Regions from separate parts of the Homo sapiens genome. Here region 2 is linked to region 1. The links come from fine-mapping of genetic effects on gene expression. A gene starts in region 1. The other region holds a variant in brackets. All regions are shown on one strand. Distances are between the middles of the regions. Region 1 holds the start of CAB39 (calcium binding protein 39). Region 2 has its middle 36 kb from the start of LINC01907.

Region 1 (9,038 bases):
AAACTGTGAGTGATTAGTCATCAATCTGGAAAAAAGGCTCTTGGGAAAGTATGGCAATAACTAAAGAAATCTGTAATCCCACAAAAGTTGATCAAAACAGAAAACTTTAGTAAATATTCCAAGGTAATAAAGACCCTGTGTGGCATACGTATTTGCAATATACAAACATTCAAATAAAATCAAGTTACCAAACCCCATACTTATACTGGACTTTCTTAGCAGTTCTTCTACATTAACTTTAGGAAACGTATACAGCCTTACTCAGCATCTTACTTCATACGTGATGAAACAGAAACAGAGATCTTATTAATACACCTTAGAATGTAAAATACATGGGAAAAAACTGACTTAGTACAAGAACCTGAAGTAGAAAATGCTAATGAAGGGAAGTAAGCTGCCTTGAAATAAAAAAACAGATATCCAGGCAAGCGTGGTGGCTCACGCCTGTAATCCCTGCACTTTGGGAGGACAAGGCGAGATTACTTGAGCCCAGCAGTTCAAGACCAGCCTGGGAAACATGGCAAGACCCTGTCTCTATAAAAATACAAAAATTAGCCGGATGTGATGGTACGAGCCTGTGGTCCCGTCTACAGGAGGCTGAGGTGAGAGGATGGCTTGAGCCCAGGAGGTTGAGGTTGCAGTGAGCCATGTTCGCACCACTGCACTCCGGCCTGAGCGACCGAGTGAGAACCTGTCTCAAAAAACAAAACAAAACCAAAAAGGCAAATACCACCCATTTGTTATAGTAGCAAACCATTTCATGAAATATTCTATGCTTATATCCAGCCTGAGTCTTCGTGATGTCATGTTCAAAAAATAGTTAACCTATATGGATGGCCCTAGTGTAGAGACTATTTTTCAGGAGCGAAGTGGGGAGTGGGAAGGGACACTGCATCGCCGTCTGTGGGGGATGGTATACCAGCCATGACAGTAATCTTTTGACAACATCCCTTTAAAAGTCCATTCACTCCTATAGCAGAGATCTGTGTGCTTTCTTCCTCTTCCACACCTCATGACAACACACATCCTGCCAAGAAAAACTTTATTCAACAAGCAAGAGGATCCAAGTCTTACAGAGAAAGAAACATACTTCAAACAAGAAACTTTCAGAAAAAGTTCTGTCCACACTAGTAGTTATTAAGCCTAACTACTGCATTTCATCTGAGGTAAATAATACAACCTTGTCAGGAAAACATAACATGCTTAGAAGACTTCCATTGTTGAGTAAAAATTTTTTATATGAAGATATTTAATGACAAGAAAAGCTTAATAAGAGATGTGTGTGTGTATACATATGCATACAATATATTTCATTATGCAAAGAAAAAATACACAGAAAAAGACTGGAAAGAAAATACGCAAAAATGTTAGCAGTAACCAAATCTAAGTGGTAAGATTATAGAAAATGTTTTAAAGATTTTCTAGCACTCCCTGAATTTTGGAAGCTTTGACAAAGATCATGTATTATTTTGAAAAGCAGAAAATTTTTAAACTGCAAAAAGGTGGCATTCACTTGTCATACACGCAAACAAGTGCAAGCTTACAAAACTTAGGCCCTAAGCTGCTTTCACAGATCGTATATTCTAGATTTCGAATACAGCTGCTAATTACTTCCTAACAATTTGAACAAACTACAAAATAAAGCTAAACACTTTCACTTCTGGCTCTACTATAAAGATTTCATAATAAAATAAAATATAAAAACAAAGTTTTACCTTTCTGTAAAAGGTCTACGTCTGGCTTTCTACAGCAGAATATTACTAACCATTTTTTAAAAATCATCAATTTATGTTATTTTACACAAATGCCACCTCAAAGAATGTAGGTTTAGCTTAGTAATTCCAAAGTACATACGCCTAATACAAAGTGCAAGAAGTTTTTATGCACTGTAGCGAACGCACAAATAGAAACACCTTCTGTGTGCAGATGAGCTTATTTTATAGACACCTTTCCATTACCTCTTAAGAGCCTGATATCTAATGAAGCTTTCTGCAAAGGTACTTTGCTTAGCCTGGGCATGGATTTACTTGATTATCTGGGAAGCTGTCAAAATCGATCTGAAACTGCATTACATTCAAGGCACAGAATGTCAACTCCTGACTGGGCCTCCTCCTCTCTCCTTTCACAAGAGCGCCTTTAATATCCCCTAGCCTACATTTCCGGGCTCATGAGTCACTGAGAAATGAGCTCTAAGTTTCTCTTAGAATGCTGCTCAAATAGCTCCTCTACAGCATTCAAGGATCTGGCCCCAAAATACCTCTTTAGCCCAATACCCCCCGCCCCCTGCACCATGCCAACAAACGGAATTATCCATGATTTCTAGGCTTTGTCTTCTCGCTTTTGCTACCCCTTCCACACACCTCTTCTGCAATCCTCCTCTCCTAAATCCCATCAGGCCTTCAAGACTCTGCTCAGCATCCCCCGCCCAGGAAGCCTTCCAGGTTTCTGCGAGGCAGAAGTGATCGGTTCGGTTTTTCCGGGTGCCGTTCTAGCACTCCGTCGTTCTTTCACAGGACTTATCACCTCCTTCCCGGTATCGCAGTTATTTGTGTTCTCGTCTTATCTCTCACACCAGAGCCTAAGCTCCTCGGGGGAGGGGACCGGGGCCCGCTTCACCTTTGAATCCCTCCGGTGCGGGCCGACTACGGCGCCTGCACGCAGTCTGCGCTTGGGGTGGTTCCATTGAACTCCAGAACGCTCCGACCGCCCAATTCCTAACCAGAAATCAGTTAGGCATTTTCCTGAATTGGTCACAAAGCTGGTATCTGCCTCCCGACAACAGGAAGTTTACCAGGGGCGGGAGCGAGGCGCTGAAGCCCGGGTGCAGCCGGTGACAGTTGACCCGGCCCGCACTTCCCCGCCCGCCCGACTCCGGCCCGGACCACCACGCGCCGCCAGCCCCGCCAGAGAACCACGGGGGGAGAGGCAGGAGCGCCTGGACTGCAGGCCCCCGGGCGCCCCACGCCGGCGAAGGCAAAGGGAGCGTCTCAGCGAGGGACCGGAGCCGAGCCGGGCGGAGAGGGCAGGCTGGGCCCGGCTGCTCCCGGGGGCTCCGGGGACAAGCTGGGCCGGGGCCGCCGCCACCCAGGAAAATGGAGGCAGCCCCGGGGCCGGTGAGGGCCCAGCGGGGCAGGCGGAAGCCGGGCAGGCGTCCGCACCACGAGCAGGGCCGGCCGGGGGTCACTCACGGGGCTGGGCCGGGCGTTCCCTTCTCTGCCTCCGCGTCGTCGCTGTCCCCGTCCTCGGCCGCCGCCGCTTCGGGCTGCTCGTTCGGTCCCCGCGGAGTGGCTCGGACGCTCGGCCCCTCCGTTGTCTTCCGCCCGCTCCTGCTCCCGGCGACGGGCTCCCGCGGCGGCGGCGGCTGCGCGGGCGGACGGCTGCCCAGGGGCTCCCGCGGCTGCCGCCGCGCTGCTGCGCTCGCTTGGGCTGCGGCTGCTGCTGTGGGGCCCGGCGCCGCCTTAGTCTTCGCCTGTGCCCCCGCCCCGGCGCCTGAAGGCTCTGTGTCTCCCAGGCCGCGCCGCTCCCCGAACCCCTCGCCCCGCTTGCGGCCCGAGCCCGGCTTTGACGTGCGCACTGCGCAGCCGCCGAGGACGCGACGTCGGGCGGTGCCGCAACGCCCCCTTCCGCCTCGGGCGCCCCCGAGCGGCCGGCGGACTCAGGGCGCCGCAAGTAGGCGCGAGGCCCGAGCGGGAGGGGCCGCAGAGAAAAGCAGAAGCCAAGCCCCGCAGTTCCTCTTCCTCCGCCGCAGCTTCCAAGGCGGGGCTCAGCCCTTTCTCCTCCGCCTGAGCGCTCTTACTGCGGGAATCGCACGCCCACTTTCAACGACCACTTCCTCAACTCTTCAAGCTTAATTCTGCGAGAGGCCGGGATCCCACTTTGTGCAGACCGATTCTTACTTTCTTGGAGCAGATCGCTTCATTTTAGCATCCAGGGGGACACAGCATCCAGGGGGACAAGTGCCAGAACGTTCCAGATTAATGGGAATATTCCTATTTAAATCAGCAACCTGGATTTAAGTCCTGCTCCACCATTTGCTATCTATGGGCTGTTTCACGTCCCTGTGCCTGGATTTCCTCACACATTAAAAAAAAAAGTGTGTAATAATATAGTGGTACCAGCCACGGGCTTCTGAGGATGAACGGGACAGTGCATTGCAAAGCTCTGACAACGGAGCCTGGCACATACAAATGCCATATGTGTGTATTTTTGTTTCTTTGTTTTTAATGTGTAACTGAACTACTTTTTAAGCGCCTCCTGTACGTCAGGGATGGGGCAGTGAGCGAAACAGTCCATGCTCCTAGCACAAACAGTTGACAAATAATTGACTAATAAACCTACAGGTATGTATAATACTGGACAATTGGGCCAGGCGCGGTGGCTCACGCCTGTAATCCCAGCACTTTGGGAGGCCGAGGTGGGCGGATCACGAGGTCAGGAGTTCAAGACCAGCCTGGCCAACACCGTGAAACCCCATCTCTACTAAAAATACAAAAAACAATTAGCCGGGCGTGGTGGCGGGCGTCTGTATTCCCAGGTACTTAGGAGGCTGAGGCAGGAGAATCGCTTGAACCCGGGAGGCGGAGGTTACAGTGAGCCGAGATCGCGCCACTGCACTCCAGCCTGGGCGACGCAGCGAGACTATCTCCAAAAAACAAAAACAAAACAAACAAAAAACAACAACAAAAAAACAAATACTGGACAGTTAAAAACACCACTGGGTGAGGAGGGGAGAGAAAGCAGGGTGTTGTTATTTACAGTGTTCATTCAGGGAGCAGCTTCCTGGAGAGAGAGAGCCTGGGAGCTTTCTGTATGGAAAGGCAGAGGGAATAGCAGGACCAAGGCCCTGAGGCGAGAATCTGCTGGCTTGAAAGCGGCCCCAGATAGGGGAAGAGATGAGGAAGAAGTGCGGCCCTACCAACCAAAGTTAGGACTTCCTGTTTTTACTCTCAAGGAGATGGGAAGCAATTTGAAGGGTTGCGAGCAGAGAAAGGACGTGGAATGACATTTCAGGAGGATCCCTGTGGCTGTGGTATGAGGACCAGACTGAAAGCCCTGAGGGTTTCAGCAGGGGGACCAGCGAGAAGCCTGTTGAAATCAGCCAGCCAAAAGATAAGACTGTCCGGCCGGGCGTGGTGGCTCGCACCTGTAACCCCAGCACTTTGGAAGGCCGAAGCAGGGGGATCACCTGAGGTCAGGAGTTCGAGACCAGTCTGACCAGTATGTTGAAACCCCGTCTCTACTACAAATACAAAAATAACCCCAGCTACTTGGGAGGCTGAGGCTGGAGAATTGCTTGAACCCGGGAGGCGGAGGTTGCAGTGAGCCGAAATCGCGCCACTGCACTCCAGCCTGGGCGATAGAGGGAGACTCCATCTCAAAAAAAAAAAAAAAAAAAAAAAAAGATAAGGCTCTGTCCAGGGTGGTGGCAGTAGAAGAGTAAAATGATCACCTGTAGACACGTTTAAAAGGTGGCTCACGCCTGGAATCCCAACACTTTGGGAGTCCAAGGTGGGAGGATCATTTGAGGTCAGTTCGAGATCACCATGCCCAACATGGTGAAACCCTGTCTCTACTAAAAACACAAAAATTAGCTGGGCATGGTGGCGGGCACCTGTAATCCCAGCTATTCGGGAGGCTGAGACAGGAGAATCGCTTGAACCCGGGAGGCAAAGGTTGCAGTAAGGGGAGATTGCAATGAGCCAAGATTGTGCCACTGCACTCCAGCCTGGGCAATAGAGCAGTACTCAGTCTCAATAATAATAATAATAATAAAAGGTGGCTCACGCTTGTAATCCCACCACTTTGGGAGGCAGAGGAGGAAGGATCACTTGAGGCCAGGAGTTGGAGACCAGTCTGGGCAACATAGTGAGACTCCTGTCTCTAGAAAAAAAAATTAGCCAGGCGTGGTAGCATGTGCCTGTAGTCCCAGCTACTCCAGAGGCTGAGGTGGGAGGATCACTTAAGCCTGGAGAGTCGGGGCTACGGTGAGCTGTGACTGTGCCACTGTCACTCCAGCCTGGGCCACAGAGTGAGACCCTGACTCAAGAAAAAAAATAAATAAATAAAGGGTAAAGCTAAAAGGATTTTCCTGATTTCTAATTTTTTTTTTTCTCAAGCAACTGGAAAATACAATTTGGTGATATGGGGAAAATTTAAGCAGAAACAGATGTGAAGGGAGGAACTTGGAAATTTACTTAGGGACATACAAAGTTTGAGCTGCCTGTTGGACACCCAAGTTGGAAGTTGGACTTAAGAGTTCAGAGGAGAAGTCCTGGCGCGGTGGCTCACGCCTGTAATCCTAGCACTTTGGGAGGCTGAGGCAGGCGGATCACCTGTGGTCAGGAGTTGGAGACCAGCCTGACTAACATGGTGAAACCCCGTCTCTAATAAAAATACAAAAATTAGCCGGGTGTGGTGGCGTGCGCCAGTGGTCCGAGCTACTCTGGAGACTGAGGCAGGAGAATTGCTTGAACCTGGGAGGCAGAGGTTGCATTGAGCTGAGATTGCGCCACTGCACTCCAGTCTGGGTGACAGAGCGAGACTCGGCTCAAAAAAAAAAAAAAAAAAAAAAAAAGAAGACTTCAGAGGAGAAGTCTGGGCCACAGACAGAATTTAGGTGGTTCTCAGAGTAGGTAAAACCTCTGAATTCAGTGAGATCCTTTAGGATGTGAGTGTTACTACTAAGCCCAGTCCCCCAACAATGACAGGTCAGGGAATGGTAAGGAACCAGCAAAGAACCCTGAGAGGGAGGAGCCAGTTTGGTAGGAAGAGATCCAGGAAAATCTGGCCAGGTGAGGGGGCTCATGCCTATAATCCTGGCACCTTGAGAGGCAGAGGCAGGTGGATCACTTGAGGCCAGGAGGTCGAAACTAGTCTGGCCAACATGGTGAAACCCCATCTCTACCAAAAATACAAAAATTAGCAGGGCGTGGTGTTGCATGGCTGTAATCCCAGCTATTCCGGAGAGTGAGGCAGGAGAATTGCTTGAACCCAGGAGATGGAGGTTTCAGTGAGCTGAGATCACACCACTGCCGTCCAGCCTGGGTGACAGAGGGAGACTATGTTAAAAAAAAAAAAAAGAAAGAGAAGGAAAGAAGATCTCAGGTGATCCACTCAGGTGATCTCTACTAAATACAAAAAATTAGCCAGGCGTGGTGGCACATGCCTATAATCCCAGCTACTTGGGAGGCTGAGGCAGGAGAATCGCTTGAACCTGGGAGTTGGAAGTTGCAGTGAGCCGAGATTGTGCCGTTGCACTCCAGCCTGGGCAACAAGAGTGAGACTCTGTCTCAAAAAAAAAAAAAAAAAAAAAAAAAAGCCGAGCACGGTAGCTCACGCCTGTAATCCCAGCACTTTGAGAAGCCAAGGCGGGTGGATCACCTGAGGTCGGGAGTTCAAGACCATCCTGACCAACATGGAGAAACCCCATCTCTACTAAAAATACAAAATTAGCCGGGCATGGTGGCATGTGCCTGTAATCCCAGCTACTTGGGAGGCTGAGGCAGGAGAATCACTTGAACCCAGGAGGCGGAGGTTGCCGTGAGCCGAGATCGCGGCATTGCACTCCAGCCTGGGCAACAAGAGCAAAACTCCGTCTCAAAAGCAGGAGAGGAGGAGAAGGAAGGGGCGGGGAGGGGAGTCCCTAGAAAGAATGGGGGCCCTGGAAAGAAACCATTGGTTTAGACAACATTTTCATGAAGTTTTGTTTCTAATGAGGAGCAGAGAAATGGGGTGATGGCTGGAGGGGAATGTGGGGTCCGAGCAAATGTTTCGTTTTATTTCATTTTGTTTTGTTTTTAGATTGGGAGCTCTTCCAATGTGCTTAAATGCTGGTGGGAATGATTCAGTCGTAAGGGAAAATGTGATGATGAGGGTTGGGGGGTGTTTTCTGGAGAGCTGTCCCTGATTGAGTGAGAAGGGAAAGACGCAGAGTGCACTGGAAGGTCTGGCCTTGAATAGGAGCAAGGCAGGTGAGGTCACGGTTCCAAGAGGGCAGGCAGAATGTGGGCACGAGGCAGAGATCCAGGTAGACGAGGTTCCTGGAACTTGTGGACAGTCCCTTCTGAGGGCTTCGATTTCCTCAGGGAAACAGGAAGAACAGTCATTCATTCGCTCAGTGCAGAGAGGGAGGAGGTGTTGGAAGTTCCAGGGGAGAGGAGCAGGTGTAAAGGACCAGTTGGCAGGCTTATTCCATGTTTTTTAGCAGCCACATTTTGCTGGGAAGGTGGGGAATCTATTCCACCAGGGTTGTTTTTGCTAGATAATTCCATGGAGGGAAACAGGGGAAAGGAAGGTGAAGGTACAATAAGGAAGTAATAATTATGGTGGACTGTTAAATCCACACCTGTCCAGGAGGGAATGAGGAAGGGTTGTGGGCAGTGGGGGGAGAGAGGCCCATGTAGAAGTGGCAGGATCAACGGATGGTTGGAATCAGCACGGTAAGGGAGTGAGCTGGAAGGAAGAACATGCTGGTTGGAGAGCCAGGTCGCTTGCTCCCGAGATTATGGAAGGAGTGGTTTTCAGGAATGATAAGGCCTAGGGCAACTTCTCGAACTATGTGAATTTATAATGTGCATTTCCAGGGGCTCTTGAAGAAATGTAGATAATGGTTTTAGTGGTCTGGAGTGGACCCCTGATTCTGCATTTCTAACAAGCTGAGATGGGAAGGGGTGGAGGAAGATACTGATTTTTTGTTTGTTTGTTTGTTTGTTTGTTTGAAACGGAGTCTCTCTGTGTCACCCAGGCTGGAGTGCAGTGGTGCAGTCTCGGCTCACTACAACCTCTGCCTGTCGGGTTCAAGCAATTGTCCTCCCTGAGCCTCCCAAGTAGCTGGAATTACAGGCGCCTGCCACCACGCCAGGCTAATCTTTGTATTTTTAGTAGAGATGGGGCTTCACCATGTTGGCCAGGCTGATCTCGAACTCCTGACTTCAGGTGATCCACCCACCTCGGTCTCCCAAAGTGCTGGGATTACAGGCGTGAGCCACTGCATCCTGCCAGATACTGATGTTATTCTGATTATTGGCATGATACCAAAA
Region 2 (9,038 bases), 47 kb after region 1:
TCTCTGGCATGGTGGAGATTAGTAGGCCTCAGTCAGGCTGAGAAAAACCTAAAATTAGCCTGACCAGCTGGGCCTGGGCTGTGTGGGACTCTCCCTCACCCCCCTTGCCTTCTCAGGTTTCAGAAAGCCCGAGTATGTGCAGGAACAGCATGCTTTGCCCAGGTCGTGGCAGGCAGATCAGGGCACCTGGGGCCGGGCCGGGCAGAGGGTGCAGCTCCCAGCAGGGATGTTGTCTTTTATACGGGTTCCCCAATTCTGCAGGCCTGGCAAGAGGGAAGGGGGAGACTGCCCTTCCCATCTTCTTCTTGATGCCACTTCCTCTTTGGCTTGTTCCTTCCCCTTCCAGATCTGCAAAGCCTGGCAGTGTGGCACTGCCCAGGCCAGCAAACCAGAGACACAGCACGGCAAGCCCCACCAGGGGAAAGAGGCTTGGATGGGCAACTTCCTGGACACTGGGGAGGAGCAACCAGAAAGCCTCATCCTCACCCACTTTACCCTGTTCCACCTTCCTTTCTGATCTAGCCTGAAATTCCCTCCGTTAGTCACCATCAGCAAAACCGCAGAGCATGTGCTATGATCAAGACTTAGAAGTTGTGTGAGAAGCTAATCTCACCTCCAAAGGTGCTGGAGCTGGTCTGAGTGGGTGAGGAGCAGCGGTGCATGGCACCACGTGCATGGTGGTGGGGAAGGTGGGAAAGAGATGGCCAGCCTGGTGGTGCTGGCGGTGGTGGGGGCTGGGCAGCAGGGTGGCCTTTCCCACTTAGTGTCCGTCCCATCCCTACATCAGATATTCATGACTTGTTTCTTCTCCCTAGATGGCACTGTCTGGTACTCTCTGCCTTCTCATCTTCCTCTAGTCTGGGGTCCCTCCTTCTGGGTCACCAACTCCAAGACAGTTTGCAAATGCCAGTCCCCCTATCTGAAACAGTGCTGGAAGTTTCTGGAGCCAGAAGCATTGCTGAGCATGGGTAGTAGGGGCCCAGGAAGGCTTCCAAAGAGATGGGGCTGATGCAGGGCCCCAGAACAAGTTGCCCAGCCTGAGCTCATGGCCACAGTTGCTGTTATTTGCAGTTTTTGGAGTCTTACAATTTGCCCTGCCATGCTAGGCAATGGGTGACCACTGGCCACTCGCAGGCTAGACACCCTCAGATGGGGCCCAGGATTTTAAAATTTGTCAAATTAGATGCCCATTCAAAAACTGGGAGATTTCACGTGAAGTCAGAGTTTCTGACTTCTCTTGAAACATAAGAAGATAGGGCCCCATTTGAGGTGACTAACCAAGCTGGCTTCCTGGGACTCACCCAGTTTAGGCACAGAAAGTACCTTGTCCCAGGAAACCCTGGACAGGCTCCCAGAGCCCTGCAGGGCAACAGTAAACTGGAGTGGACTTGCTCACCCTCTAGGGCTCGTCAGCCCTGTTAGGGGCTAAATTGCACCCTCTTCAAATATGCATGTTGAAGTTCTAACTGCCAGTATCTCAGAATGTGACCTTATTTGGAAAGAGGGTCATTGCAGATGTAATGAGTTAAGATGAGGTCATACTGGAGTAGGGTGGGCCCCTGATCTGACTTCTGTCCTCGAAAAAGGGGAAATGGGAACACAGACACACACAGGGAAGATACCACATGCTGAAGGCAGAGACTGGGTGACGTGTCTCCAAGCCAAGGAATGCCAAAAACGGCCAGCAACCCCCAGAAACTCAGGGAGAGGCCTGGAATGGATCCTTCCCAGTGCTTTTGGAGGGAGCATGGTGCTGCTAACACCTCGATTTCAGGCTTCTGGCTTCCAGACCTGTGAGTCGACACAGTTCCATTGTTCTAAGCCACCCAGTTTGTGTGTACTTCATTACGGCGCCCTAGAAAACCAGTACACGCTCCTACCATGCCCTGCAGTTTTGTCATACATTCACCAGGCCTGCCTGGCCCCAGAGGCATTAGCCTTCTCACTTGCAGAAAATCCCCTGATGAGTTAAGCCAGATGTTGATGAGATCACTCCAGGGGTCCTGAGAGGGAAGGAGAAAGGTGGGTCTGGAGAGCATATGCCCCAGCCCTCAGGGGAGAGAGTGCTGGTGTCCCCAAGCAGCAAGTTCTCCAGTACTCACAGTATCCAGGAGGTGACCAGAGACCTGGGGGTGGGAGACAGGTGGGGCACCTGGGCTGGTACCAGGTGGCCAGCCTTGGCAGAGATCTCCCAAACTGTCGGGGACATTAGGAAACCACACCAGTGAGCTTGGGCAGCAAAGAAGCTGGGGCGACTTTGATGTACAAAAGATTAGGAGCCCTTCTGTGTGTTCAAGGCATCAGAGCCTCCTGGGTTCCGGTGGGTGAAAGGGGAGGTCCCAGTGGAGATGGAAAAGGAAATCTAGGTCAACCTTTCCAAATGACGTTGGCCTTGGAATGCGGTTGATTCAAGGGCAATAAAGAAAGTGTGTTAGGGCTGGGCGTGGTTGCTCACACCTGTAATTCCAGCACTTTGGGAGGCCGAGGTGGGTGGATCACTTGAGGTCAGGAGTTCGAGACCAGCCTGGCCAACATGGTGAAACCCCGTCTCTACCCAAAATGCAAAAATTAGCTGGGCGTAGTGGCGTGTGTCTGTAATCTTAGCTACTGGGCAGGCTGAGGCGGGGGAATTGCTTGAACCCGGGAGTCGGAGGTTGCAGATAGTGCCAAGATAGTGCCACTGCACTCCAGCCTGGGCAACAGAGTGAGACTCCATCTCAAAAAAAAAAAAAGTGTGTTATTTAATCCCCATTATACAAGTAAGGAAACTGAAGCTCGGAGCAGGTAAGGCTCCCAAGCTCACAGTGCTGGAAAGTAGCAGAGCCAAATCTCCCCCAGCCTTGGGTCACTGGAGCGGCTAGTTTCAACAAGGTCACACTGCCGCCGCCCCCACTGCAGTGGGCCGCCATGGGTCTTCTCGGTCAGCACTCACTGCCCGCTGGCTCTGCAAACCTCATTCTCAACCTGCGTTTGAACTGGAAGCTTTCGCTCTGATTCTCTCCCTGTTTCCAGGGTGGGTTTTTTTTTTTTTTTTTTTTTTTGAGATGGAGTCTCATTCTGTCACCCAGGCTGGAGTGCAGTGGTGCAATCTTGGCTCACTGCAACCTCTGCCTCCAGGGTTCAAGCAATTCTCCTTCCTCAGCCTCCCAAGTAGCTGGGATTACAGGCACCCGCTACCATGCAGGCAAATTTTTTTTTGTATTTTTAGTAGAGATGGGGTTTCACCATGTTGGCCAGGCTGGTTTTGAACTCCTGACTTCACGTGATCAGCCCACCTCGGCCTCCCAAAGTGCTAGGATTACAGGCATGAGCCACCGTGCCCGGCCTCCAGGGTGGTTTTAAGAAGGCAAGTCCGTGGGATCTGCCAAGTCATCTCATGCAGAGCGTTCAGGAAGATCATGGTCCCCCTGCCAGTTCCTGCGGTGTTCTTGAGGTCAAATAATATTCTTGTGGTTCGCTCATTCATTCATTCACTCACTCACTCAGCAAGCACTGAGGGAGTACATGAGGGACTGTGGATATGGCAGTGAACTATAGACCTGGTCCCTCCCTCCAGGAGCTTGTAGCACTTTTGTCTGGTGGCAACACGTGGTGTGGAGAAAAGAAAGCTGCTCAGCATGTTAGGGTATGCAGCAGGGTGGAGAGCTGTTGTCATTAACACAGGGAGGTCAGAGGAAGGCTCTGGTAGATGCTAGTGAAAGTCTGAAGGGTAAGGGAGTCAGCCCAGGGCTCCAGGGGGAAGGGCCTCCGAGGCAGAAGGTACCAGAAATGAAAAGGCCCTGAGTCAGGAGCACACTTCCCTGTGGCTGAAGTGATCCTGGGAGTCCACAGGAATCCATGGGAACCTGTGAGCCATCATGGAGATTTGGGAAACACGAGAGGGCTGGTCTGGCTGTGTGATGAGGGTGGTTGGGGCGGCTGGACGTGCAGGAAGGAGAGAGATGTCATGATCTACGTGAGTCGGGACAAAGGATGGACCAGGGTGGTGGCTGTGGAGGCGGGAGGAGCAGTCAGACTCTGGATGTATGTCTAAGGAGGATGAGGGCTTGGATATGGGGAGGAAGAAGGGGAGCCCTAGGTTTTTGGCATTCATCTTCTGGCAGTCTTTCCTTAACTTTCCACCACTAGGGCCAGCCTCTGAGTTCATCCTCACCAGGTTGCTGCGACAGGGAGGGCAGGCTCTGTGTCCTCATGTTTGCCTTTTGCTTTAATCCTCACTCATCTTTACTTGCTTTAGCCCATGGGCTCTGGAATGAGGGGCCCTTGGAGCCCCCCACTTCTGATCCTGAGGTGGGGGGCAGGCAGTAGAAGCTGGAAGGAGAGCCTTCCTTAGCACACAGCCCCACACCCCACTTCCCATCCTTTCTTTTGAAGAGTGGAGGGGGATCCTCTGAAAAGCAGCGATGAGGAGTGCTCCCCCATCCCCACCCCCTCTGCACTGTGCTCCAGCCAAGGCCTGAGAAAGCAGCGCAATGTCAGGGAGACCCAAGGGGTGGTGTGGCAGAGGGTGAGAGAAATGAGACAGCACCTCAGCCTGTGAAAGTGGAGGCTGCGTGGATGCCGGTGCACATAAGTGAGTGGGGAGGGGGAGGGAGAAAATCTTCCCACCACTAGACTGCCCATACCATGCAGACTCAGAGACCTGCAGCCCAGGCTCTGCCCCTC[T/A]CAGCTCTGGGCTCTCCTCCCAGTCCTGGGGGTGGCCCTGGGCCAGGGCTGTGATGCACCGCCCACCCTCACTGCACTTGAGCTCAGCTGAGAGCATATGCTGGGCACCTACCCAGTATCTAGTTTCCCCTTCTTCCTTACTAACAGCATCCTGCCTTTGGGGGGTGGCAAGGTGTCCAGCTCAACTACTTCCTTGGATCCTTTGTATGTAGTGGTGGTCATGTTGACCTAGTTCTGCCCAGTGGAATAAGAGCAGGAGTCAGTGGGTGGAAATTTACTTTTTTTTTTGTTTTATTTTTTGAGCTGGAGTTTCACTCTTGTTGCCCAGGCTGGAGTGCAATGGCGCGATCTCAGCTTACTGCAATCTCTGCCTCGTGGATTCAAGTGATTCTCCTGCCTCAGCCTCCCGAGTAGCTGGGATTACAGGCCCCCGCCACCACACCCAGCTAATTTTTTCTCTTTTTAGTAGAGATGGGGTTTTACCACGTTGGTCAGGTTGGTCTCAAACTCCTGACATCAGATGATCCACCCACCTCGGTCTCCCAAAGTCCTGGGATTATAGGCATGAGCCACCATGCCTGACTGGTGGGTGGATATTTAAAAAGAAACAGATTCAACTGGCATGCTCTTTAGCCCTTTCTCTTTGATCTTTGACTTCATCGTTTTCTCCTTCTAACTTTTTGGAAGACAGTTTGGACGCCTGGAGGTGCAGCAGCCATATTCAACCATGAGGGGAAAAGCCAGATGCTAAGTGTGGTGGAGGAGAACAGGAGGAGTCCTGATGTTGGCTGACCCCTAAGCGATGGTACCAGCCCTTGACTGCCAACTCTAAACTTCCTTTTTTGTATGAGACAAAAAAAAAAAAAAAAAAAAAAAAAAAAAAAAAAAATCCCTGTTACTCTAGTTTTTAGTTACATGCAGGTGAACACAGTCCTAATTGATACCCAGGTCATCTCATGCAAAATCTGGTAGCTACTTCTGAAAGCCCAGCACCCACCCCAGCTAGCCTAGGGCAGCCCAGCCCATGGGTGGCTGACCTTGGGCCATGCCTCTACCCTGACCCCACTGCACAGAGGTGATGGCCCGCAGGAGTACAGTGTGTGGGGCACAGGCTCAGAGAGGTTGAGTAACTTGCCCGGCATGGCTCTGCTAATAAAGAGCAGAGTCAAATGTCAGTGTCAGATCTTGTGTCTCAGAGGCACTGTCTCTGCTCTGATATCAGCGTGGGTGGAAGTGGGCAGGGAAATGGGAGTTCAAAGCCCAACAATTCTGATACGATTCCCTAGGAAGAACCATAATAGACCATAGAGCATCTCCTTGAAGGCTTTGCCAAATGTTGCCTCGATGAGGCCTGCTCTGACTACCCTGTTCAAAATGCTGGCCCTCGCTCCAGATTCCCCTTACTCTACTCTGTTATTTATTTATTTATTTGTATAGAACGTACCATCTTTTAGCACACTATATAACTTACTTTTTAGTATGTCTGACATATGATGTCTCTTGCCCCTCCCTCTACCCCCAAAATGTAAACCCCACAGGGACAAAGAATTGGGCTGCTTTGCTCATAAGCAAAGGGCCTAGAATAACGCTGGCAGAAAGAAGGTATTTGTTGTACTGAATTAAATAGTAATGTTTGCTGAGCACCAACTATTAGGGGCTCAGGAAACATTGCTATTTAGTTCAGTGCAACAAACACCTCCTTTCTGCCACCATTATTTGGTGACATTAGGGACATTAGGGTGTCCCCTAAAATTCTTATGTTGAAATCCTAGCCCCAGTACCTCACAATGTGACTGTATTTGGAGATAGGTCTTAAAGAGATAATTAAGTTAAAATGAGGTCATTAGGATGGACCCTGATTCAATATGACTGATGTCCTTATAAAAAGAGGAGATTGGCTGGGCGCGGTGGCTCATGCCTGTAATCCCAGCACTTTGAGAGGTTAAGGTGGGCAGATCACGAAGCCAGGAGATCGAGACCATCCGGGCCAACATGGTGAAACCCCGCCTCTACTAAAAATACAAAAATTAGCTGGGCGTGGTGGCACACACCTGTAGGCCCAGCTACTCGGGAGGTTGAGACAGGAGAATCGCTTGAACCCAGGAGGCGGAGGTTGCAGTGAGCCGAGATCACACCACCGTACTCCAGCCCAGGTGACAGAGTGAGACTCCATTTCAAAAGAAAAAAAAAAAAAAAAAAAGAGGAGATTAGGACACAAACGCAGGGCCGACCATGTGAAGACAGAGGGAGAAGATAGCAGTCTACAAGCCAAGGAAAGAGCTCTTAGAAGTCAACCCTGTCAACACCTGGATCTCAGACTTCCAGCCTCCAGAATCATGAGGAAGTATACTTCTGTTGCTTAAGGCACCCGGTCTGTGGATCTAGGTAATGGCAGCCCTATCAAACTAATACCACACCTATGTCTAGCTCGGTTCAAAGGATTTTGCATGGGTTGCTCATTTGAGCCTAACCACAACCCTGGTACCATACTCATTTCTCAGATGCAGGAGCTGAGTGCCAGGAAGTGGTGATAAGGGGGCTGGGGAAAGGAAGAAAGTCTAAATCTTGGGGTTCTGGACCTTGTGAGGTTAGGGAAAGGAGCTTTGGTTGCCCGATCTGCCAGGCCCTTCTACATCTGAGCTCTGTGGGGAATCAGGCCTATGGGGAACTGGGGTGCTCAAACCACACCCCTAAGCCGGCCCATGCTATAGCCCTCCATGCCCCCAGTACAGCAGTGCCCCTGTGTCTCTATTTGGAACCCTGGGATCTGAGTCGCTGCCTGGCACTACCCAAAGGGACTCATCTCTATGGTGCAGTTCCAGATACTGAGGCCAACAGGGGTGAGGAAGAGAAGTAAGACAGCCCTAGGCAGGACACATTTCCCCCGTGTGCCTCAAAGGATTTAATCATCATGCACTGACTCTCACGCCTGCCTGGAGAGTCAGATTCTCTAATATGAGATTGTGTGGAGCCCACTGGTTCTTCAACTACCATTCTCAGTCAAGTTGATAGTATGGCTAATATTTATTGAGGTCCTACTATGTGCCAGGCCCTGTCCTAAGTGCATTCCATAGAGTTTCTCATTTAATTTTCTTGGCATCCCTGTGAGATGGTCTTCAATGTTATCACTATTTTACAGATGAGGAAACCGAGGCTTAGAGAGTTCAAGTGTGGAGTTGGGATCCTGTCTGACTCCTATGCTGGCTGTCTATTTCTTTTTTTTTTTTTTTTTTGAGATGGAGTCTCATTCTGTTGCCCAGGCTGGAGTACAGTGGTGCAATCTCGGCTCACTGCAATGCCTGATATGCTGGCTGTCTTAACCATTAACTGGCACTGACTGTATACCTTGCCCTGTGCTGCCTTTGGCTATAGTTGGCTGGACATGTTCCCCAATCCCCTTGTGCTGGGCAGAGAATCAGGAAGGAAGCTGGGGTGTAAGAACGGAAACTGCCAACCAGTACCACAAAGATCTGAACTCTTATTCACGTGGTCTGTAACCTCCTGCCCGCTCTCCCTCCCCCACCCGTGGTCTCTGCCTGGGAGCTGAGATTGTCCCCTTCTGTTTAACTTGGTGTTTGACCCCGGCCACCTGCTGTTCATTTCATTCAGTTTCACCGGGACACCCAGACCAGGGCACGGGAGGTGGCCCTGTTACCAGTTCTTTGTCATCTGTAGCTGGTTGTGAAATGCCCTGGCTGATCCACACCAGAAGAAGGAGAGAAAATTTCCCTGGGGCTGGAATTGCTGGGGCCCTTCCTAGAGGAACAAGCACAGCCCAGAGACAAATCTGAAGCCACTGCCTGTACACGTGGGTTGGGAACTGCCTGTCCAGGACACCTCCTGCAGAAGACTGGCCCAAGGCCTTGTCCTTTCCTTGGCAGGGACAGTGCGGGGACGAGAGAGTCCCAGGGGGGTCATGTGAGCTCTGTTTCCGGAGTCTATCTGGGAACCTTTTCCTTCCCTGCTGGTCCACATTCCCGGAGCTCTGCGAGTCAGCATCGAGGTGAAGGTGGGCCAGCGCAGGCCCTTCCCTGTGGCCTCTGAGTCTGGGGGGGTTGCCATCCTCTGGGTCTGATGTACCCTCCTTATGTGCAGGGTGGGGGGTGCAGAAGTAGAGTAAGTGGGCCAGGCGCGGTGGCTCACGCCTGTAATCCCAGCACTTTGGGAGGCCGAGGAGGGTGGATCACGAGGTCACAAGATCGAGACCAGTCTGACCAACATGGTGAAACCCTGTCTCTGCTAAAAATACAAAAAAATTAGCTGGGCACAGTGGCACGTGCCTGTAATCGCAGCTACTCGGGTGGCTGAGGCAGGAGAATTGCTTGAACCTGGGAAGCGGAGGTTGCAGTGAGCTGAGATCACGCCACTGCACT

What was found.
Region 2: its variant is fine-mapped to the expression of CAB39 in skeletal muscle (FUSION, PIP 0.95).

What each region holds. Positions count from the first base shown.
Region 1 is chr2:230,707,381-230,716,418 of GRCh38, reverse strand. CAB39 (calcium binding protein 39) reads right to left here and starts at 3,577. Exons shown (of 9, transcript NM_016289.4): 1 at 3,189-3,577. It overlaps LOC124907996 (formin-like protein 16), which reads left to right and starts at 3,093. Exons shown (of 4, transcript XM_047446832.1): 1 at 3,093-4,340. The coding sequence starts at 3,093. The coding sequence ends at 3,851. RefSeq lists a silencer at 2,866-3,805.
Region 2 is chr2:230,659,924-230,668,961 of GRCh38, reverse strand. No RefSeq gene overlaps it. Among named protein-coding and RNA genes, the nearest start is that of LINC01907, 36 kb to the left of the region's middle. RefSeq lists enhancers at 195-414, 795-874, 895-944, 985-1,464, 1,434-1,728 and 4 more. The variant T/A (reference allele first, on the strand shown) is at 4,666.